2 linked regions of the Homo sapiens genome follow. The protein of the gene in region 1 purifies or fractionates together with the protein of each later gene. This does not show direct contact. Each region holds a gene or a part of one and is shown on either strand. Other genes may lie near its edges.

The links.
Region 2: the proteins of CABIN1 (region 1) and DNM1 purify together in Homo sapiens (affinity purification with western blotting, with the first as the bait; one study listed by BioGRID). This does not show direct contact.

What each region holds. Positions count from the first base shown.
Region 1 is NC_000022.11:24,017,693-24,021,507, forward strand, and holds part of CABIN1 (calcineurin-binding protein cabin-1), read left to right. Parts: intron 1-3,815. UniProt on the Homo sapiens protein: May be required for replication-independent chromatin assembly. May serve as a negative regulator of T-cell receptor (TCR) signaling via inhibition of calcineurin. Inhibition of activated calcineurin is dependent on both PKC and calcium signals.
Region 2 is NC_000009.12:128,206,064-128,209,878, reverse strand, and holds part of DNM1 (dynamin-1), read right to left. Parts: intron 1-3,815. UniProt on the Homo sapiens protein: Catalyzes the hydrolysis of GTP and utilizes this energy to mediate vesicle scission and participates in many forms of endocytosis, such as clathrin-mediated endocytosis or synaptic vesicle endocytosis as well as rapid endocytosis (RE).

The sequences.
Region 1 (3,815 bases):
TTCCTTTTTAAGGCTGAATAATAAATGTTTCATTGTATGTATATACTACATTTTGTTTAGCCATTCATCTGTCATGAACAGTTGGGTTGCTTTCACCATTTTTTTTTTTTTCTTAGCTTCAGCTTAAAGGAGGCCACCTTTCGACTATTGTAAGTAATGCTGTGTCCCTCAGTTGTAAAACGTTATTTATTTATTTAAAATAGTATGGTGCTCTTGTCACCCAGGCTGGAATGCAATGGCGTGATCACAGCTCACTGTAGCCTCAACCTTCTACCTCAACTGCCCTGAGTAGCTGGGACTACAGATGTGTACCACCATGCCCTGGCTAATTTTTAAATTTTTTGTAGAGATGGAGTCTCTCTGTGTTGCCCAGGCTGGTTTTGAACTCCTGGCCTCAAGCAATCCTTTCACCTCGGCTTCCCAAAGTGCTGGGACTAAAGGTGTGAGCCACCATGCCCATCCTGTTTCTCAGTTTTTAAGAGCTGTTTGTATATTAGGGGTATTAGTCCCTTGTCAGTGGTATATGTTGCAAATATTTTCTCCCAATTTGTTAGCTTTTAATTTTTTTTCTGAGTTTTTAAATTTTTTTTTGTCATGCAAAAATTTTTAAATTTTTATGTAGTTAAATGTATCACTCTTTTACTGTTTGTGAATTTTAAATCATATTTGGCCCTTCTCTACTACGTAATACTAAGTGTTAATACAAAGGTTAAAGAGGAATTCACCAGTATCTCCTTTAGTAGTTGTATGGTTTCATTTTTTATCATTTAGATTTCTAATTCATTTGCAAGTTTATTCTTGTGAGTTATCTTTTTCCAACAGTGAATACTGTTCCAGCAGTATTTAATACAAAGTTCATCTTGACTCTAGTGATTTGAGATGCCATCTTTGCCATATTTTTTATTTCCATATGTACTTGAGTCTAATTCTGGACCTCATCTTTTTGTGTACATATGCAGCAGTACCTCACTGTTTCATTATGAAGGCTTTGTACAGTAGGTTTTAATGTCTGTTATACCTATCCCCCCTTACAGTTTTTTTTTCATTGTTTTCCTAGTCTTAAATTTTTGTTTTTCCATATGAATTTTAGTATCAACTTGTCAATATTATCTTGTCAGTATTTGTATTGGGATTGCATTGAATGTATAAATTAACTTGGGAAGAACTGACATCTTTATATTTTTGAATCCTATCCAGGAACAGGGGATGTCATTTCATTTGTTCAAGTTAACTTTAGTGTCTTTTAATAGTGATTTAAACTTTTTCTTGCACAGTTTTAATTAACTTTATTCCTAAGTATTTAATGATCTTGTTGCTATTGCAAATGGGATTTTTCTCTACCATAATGTCTTCTTTTATGGTTTGTATATATGAAGGCTATTGATTTTTATGTATTAATCTTATATTGTGCAACTTCACTGAGTGTTGTTTTTTTTTTTTTTTTTTTTTTTTTTTTGAGAAGGAGTCTCACTCTGTCGCCCAGGCTGGAGTGCAGTGGGGCAATCTTGGCTCACTGCAACCTCCGCCTCCTGAGTTTAAGTGATTCTCCTGCCTCAGCCTCCTGAGTAGCTGGGATTACAGGCATGCGCCACCATGCCCGGCTGATTTTTTGTATTTTTGGTAGAGACAGGGTTTCACCATGTTGGTCAGGCTAGCCTCGAACTCCTGACTTCTTGATCCTCCTGCCTTGGCCTCCCAAAGTGCTGGGATTACAGGCGTGAGCCTGTAATTTTTGTATTTTTGGTAGAGACAGGGTTTCACCGTGTTGGCCAGGATGGTCTCGAACTGCTGACCTCAAGCAATCCACCCACCTCAGCCTCGCAGAGCACTGGGATTACAGGCATGAGCCACCATGCCCCGCCTGCTGAGTTATTATTGAATAAATTTTATCATTGATTTTGGGGTTTTCCAGGTAGTATATCATATTATCTACAATTAGTGATAGCTTTTCTTTACCCTTTTTTTTTTTTTTTTTTTTTTTTGAGACGGAGTTTCGCCCTTGTTGCCCAGGCTGGAGTGCAATGGTGCAATCTTAGCTCACCACAACCTCTGCTTCCTGGGTTCAAGCAATTCTCCTGCTTCACCCTCCCGAGTAGCTGGGATCACAGGCATGCGCCACCATGCCCAGCTAATTTTGTATTTTTAGTAGAGACGGGGTTTCTCCATGTTGGTCAGGCTGGTCTTGAACTCCCGACCTCAGATGATCCACTCACCTCAGCCTCCCAAAGTGCTGGGATTACAGGCGTGAGTCACTGTGCTTGGCCTTTACCCATTTTTATATCTCTAATTGATTTATCTCTTCTAATTTTATTGGCTAATATTGCACAGGTGGATAGTAGCAGAGATAGTGGACATTTTTGCTTTGTTCTTGATATTAATCTCTGAAATTAATGGACATGCCTCTGAAATAAGGTTTGCCCATGAAATAAGATTTTGGCTTTAGGACTAAGGTGTATTTATATATTAAAGTATCTCAATTTCTGTATTTTCCTGAGTATTTTTTATTATGAATAGATATTGAATTTTGTCAGACTTTCCCTTCTGTGGAGATAATCATGTAATTATTTTTCCCTTAGATGATTACATTGTGTTTTCACATGTGATGTGTGTTTTTTTGTTAGTATCTATTTTTTATTTTTTTATTTTTGATACGGGGTCTCACTTTGTCACCCAGGCCGGCATACAGTGGTGCAATTACTGCTTACTGCTGCCTCAACTTCTCAGGCTCAAATGATCCTCCTCCGTCAGCCTCCCAAGTAGCTGGGATTACAGGCATGTGCCACTATACCCAGCTAATTTTAAAATTTTTTTTGTAGAGATGAGGTCTCCCTATGTTGCCCAGACTGGTCTCAAACTCCTGCCTCAGCCTCCCAAAGTGCTGGGATTATAGGCAGATTACAGTCATGAGCCACCATGTCTGTCCGTTAGTATTTCTTTAAATTTCTCCAACATTTTCATTGCATTTCCTTTTATCTGGAAGTTGTTTATCAGGAGATTCTCAAATTTTTAGATAGACACACCTTTCTTCTGTTGGTGGTGATGGTCGTGTTAGTAAATTCTAGTTTTAAGCATTATGATTGGCAAGTGTTGTTTTTAGTATCTTTACTTGATGGAAGGTGTTTTCTTTGTGACATGAGCAGTTTTTGTGTGTGTGTGTGTGTGTGAATGTGCTGTGAGCACTGGAGAAGAATATATCATTTCTGTTATCAAGGTGTGGAGTTTGATATACATCTATATCATCTCCTCTGTTATGTTGTTTAGATCAATCATCTGTCTCCTCATTTTTTCTCCACTTGATTTGTCTTTAAAAAAATTTTTTTTTTTTGAGACAGGGTCTCACTGTGTATCCCAGGCTGGAATGCAGTGGTGTGATCATGGCTCACTGCAGCCTTGAACTCCTGGGTTCAAGTGATCCTCCCACTTCAGTCTGCTCAGTAGCTGGGACTACAGGTGCATATCACCATGCCTGGCTAATTTTTATTTTATTTATTTATTTATTTATTTATTTTAGAGATGGGGGTCTCACTATCTTGCCCAGGGTGGTCTCGGACTCCTGGAGTCAAAGGATCCTCCAACCCCAGCCTCCCAAAGTGCTGGGATTACAGGCATGAGCCACCAAGCCTGGCCATCATTTTAAAATATTTTTGTAGAGACAGGGTCTCACTATGTTGCCCAGGCTAGTCTCGAACTCTTGGGCTCAAGCCATCTTCCTGCCTTGGCCTGCCAAAGTGTTGGGATTACAGGTGTGAGCCACAGTGCCCGATCAATTTGTCTTTTTTAAAAAATTATTTATTTATTATTTTTTCAAGAGATGG
Region 2 (3,815 bases), on another chromosome or scaffold:
AGGGGAGGTGCCCAGCTGAAGCCTGTGCTCCCCTCGTAGGCTACGCTCAGATGCCCCAGAATTCCCTCTCAAGCAGTTCCAAGCCCACCGCCCAGGCCCAAGTGGGGACCAGCCCAGGCCCAAGGTGGGTCCTTTCTGGAGCTGGGATATGAGGGCTGGGGTGTTCACAAGTGAACCCTGGAGGGATAAAGAGGGAAATGACGGGGCAGCCTGCGGAGAGGGGACACCTGTCCCCACGCCTCCACATCCACCACGGAACTCCAAGGAGTCTGAAATTCTGAATTCAAACCCAGCTGGTCAGGTTGTGATGAAGGTGTGTTTGTTATGGTGGGAGGGCAGAATGTATTGCATTTAGCAATTCCTCAGCTTGATTTATAACTGGAATACATAGACATATGGCATGTGGGCGTCCGTTTCTCCACGCCTGACAGCACTGTGTCCATGACCCACTTCCTCCACTCCTGCCCTGCCCACCCTCTCCACTCTCCCACCTGCACCCCCTTCCCTGGGTCCGACCCTCTGACCCAGCCAGGGCCTGGGAAACTCAATTCTCCTGGCGCCGAGATCAGATGCTGTCTGCCAGGGTCACCTTTCACTCCCAGCTCCTCTGGGCCACGGTGGGGTGTGGGTTTGGAGAGGATGTCCTCTGGCTGTGGATGGGTGCATTTCCATGTTTCCAGCCCCAGGGGTGTGCTCCACATGTGGCCCACAGGCAGTGTGTGCTTAGCACGTGGCAGCTGCGTGCTCTGAGCATGCAGAGGCTGGAGCAGAGTGTGGCAGCTCTCCAGGTGGGTGGGGGGGTGTCAAAGGGCCCCTAACAGGCCCCTCAAGCCCCGCCTCCCCAACCCTCCTAGTCTCACCTCTGGCCTCTGCTCCTCACTCAGCCACACTGCCCTTCATCCTTCATCCGGGTTCTCAAACCCGTTGGGCTCTTTTCCCCCTAACTCTTTGCTCAGGACAGTCCCTGCACCTGCGGAAGTCCACACCTTGGCTTGACCACGTCCTAGTCTTGCTCAGGTCCAATCTTAAATGCTACCTCCTCAGGAGGCCTTCTGATGGCCCAGAAAGCCCCCCTCCCCTCAATGTCAGGCTCCTTGCAACGCAGGAGCAGCCTCCTTCAAAATACACGACAAACGTGCTCTTTGTGGATTTCATGTCTGTCTGCCCCGATCAGCCGCAAGCCTCCCCAAGCAGGATGGGTCTGGCTGACTCACAACTGTATCCTCAGGGCCTGGCACACAGCAAGTGCCAAGGAAATATTAGTTCCCTCTGCCCCATCCAGGTCATCGATACTCTGCCTAGGATGTCTCATTTATCCCCTAATAGACTTTGGCCTCCATCTCCAAATCTGAGAAATGGGACCACTATGATGCATCCTGGTGTGTTCAGAGGAAGAGACAGAGCTTAATAGTGGGGAGGGGGCTGTCTCCCCTGGGAAAGGCTAGGTTTGACAAAGAGAAGGGCTCTCAGAGTCCAGAGACCAGCATCACGTCCATGCTGGGATAGAATGCAGAGCAGAGAGCTGAGTGCTATGGCTCACACTTGTAATCCCAGCACTTTAGGAGGCTGAGGTGGGTGGATCACTGGAGGTCAGGAGTTGAGACCAGCCTGGACAACATGATGAAACTCCATCTCTATTAAAAATACAAAAATTAGCCGGGCGTGGTGGTACATGCCTGTAATCCCAGCTACTTGGGAGGCTAGGGCAGGAGAATCACTTGAACTTGGGAGGTGGAGGTTGCAGTGAGCTGAGATCGCGCCATTGCATTCCAAGTCTGGGTGACAGAGTGAGACTCCATCTCAAAAAAAGAAAAAAAAAAGAAAAAAAAGAATGGGGAGGAAGGGACAAGGGCATTGGGGGAGACAGAAAGCCTGGGGGTGGGGGGTAGGCAGAGTTACGGGGAAACCTAAAACCCTTCCTCCCAGGCTGCTCCTTCGGCTCTGGGCAGAGGGTCGCTCCTCAGGACCCCTACCCTACCCTGGATGGAGAAGATCCCCAACCCGTGCCCCCATCCTGGTGCACCTCCCAGCCCACGCCATCCCAGAGGGCTTGCCTGTCTACGCCCAGGCAGGGATAGAAGCAGCGCGTCCTCCATGCCAGGCCCTGCCCCGAGTGCTTCCTGGGGATTGTTTCAACACTCACCATAATCTCACAAGGGATGTGCTATTATTATCCCCATTTTACAGATGAGGAAATAGCAGCTGGGCAGGGTTTGGGGAACATGCCCAGGGTTTCTCTGCTTGTAAGTGGCAGAGTTGAGCTTCATACTCGGCAGGTCTGACTCCACACCATGCTCTCGGCCCCTCTGCCACATTCCCACCAGACTTGGCCTGCCCTAGGACAACCCACTCTTGGCCCTAGAGGAGCACTGGGGTGGGGGGTGTAGCGGGGCGGGGGTGACAAAGAGGAGCTGGAGGGACAGCGAGGAGGCCCCTTTGGCCTAGGGCACCAGGCATCTGTTCATGAAAGGCTGGTGTGTGCTGGGTCCACAAACACTCCCCCATCTACACTTACCCCCAGGATGAGCTCATCTACTCTCGGGTTTAAATCCCATCTCTACACCAACGACTTCCAAATTTTTACTTCCAGCCCGTCTTCCCCCTGAGCTCTCAACTTGCATCACCAAACTGCCAGCTGACATCTTCCACTTAGAAGTCTAACAGGCATCTCAGGCTCAATATGTTCAGAACCAAACCCTGGTCTTCCCCCATCCCCCCAGTCTGCTCCTCCTTACTCTTCCCGACTCTGTTAATGGCACCAACACCCACCCAGGAGCTCAGGTCAAAGTCCCAGAAGTCATCATTGATTCCTCTTTCCTCACCCTCCACATTCATCCTCCAGCAGGACTTCCTCTAAAATATATCCTGAAACCCACCCACCATTCTCCTTCTGGTTGCAGCTGAAGCCCTTGTCCAGGCCCCCCACTACCCCCTGCCCACTGCAGCAGCCTCCCCACCAGTCTCCTGCCTTTTCCCTCACCCGCTCCCCAAGTCACACCCTTGCTAGAATTAGCTCATCACTCCACTACTAAAAAGCTTCCCACAAGAGAGAAAATAAACCCAAACTCCTCACTCCTCATGGCCTAAGGGCTTTGTAGATCTAGCCCCTGCCTATCTCTCAGGTCCTGTCTCCCCCTTGCTAGCTGAATACCAGCTACAGGGTCTCCTTTCTGTTCTTCAAAGGCACCAAATTCTTTGCTACCCCGGGGCCTTTGCACCTTTCCCTTGGCCTGGAACTCTCCCGCCCCTGGCAAGTTACACAGCTTCTCATCCCTTGGTTCTCATCTCAGATGCCACCTCCTCCTGGAGACCTCTGACCTCCCTGGGGAGAGCAGCCCCACTCCCCTCCCTGACGTTCACCACATTTTCCAGTTGTCTTCTGAGTTTCTCCCTCTGCAGTGCAGAGTCTTGGTCTTTTCCACCATAGAATCCCCAGTGCTGAGACATCGTGCACCCTCCACAAATGTTTGCTAAATGACTGAATGAATTGGCCTCAGTTTTCCCTTCTGTAAAAGGGAAGGGGGTGAAGAAATAGTATAGACCCAGACAAGTTCTAGCAGCATCCCAGGCAGCTGCAAGGCTACCTCCATTGCAGAGTTGACAGCAGGATCCTCCTGAGCACCCAGAAGCCCGGGTGGGCCTGGGGCAGCCCTGATGCATTTTCCTGTGAAGCATTTTCTGTTGGGGATTGGCTCCTGGGAAGCCCCAGGAGACAGAATGGCTGTTACTATGCTCACCAGTCTGGGGACTGAGCCCTGTTGGAGAGGTCAGGAGCCCTTGAGGGAGCTGGCAGGCTGAGACAGTGGAACCCACTG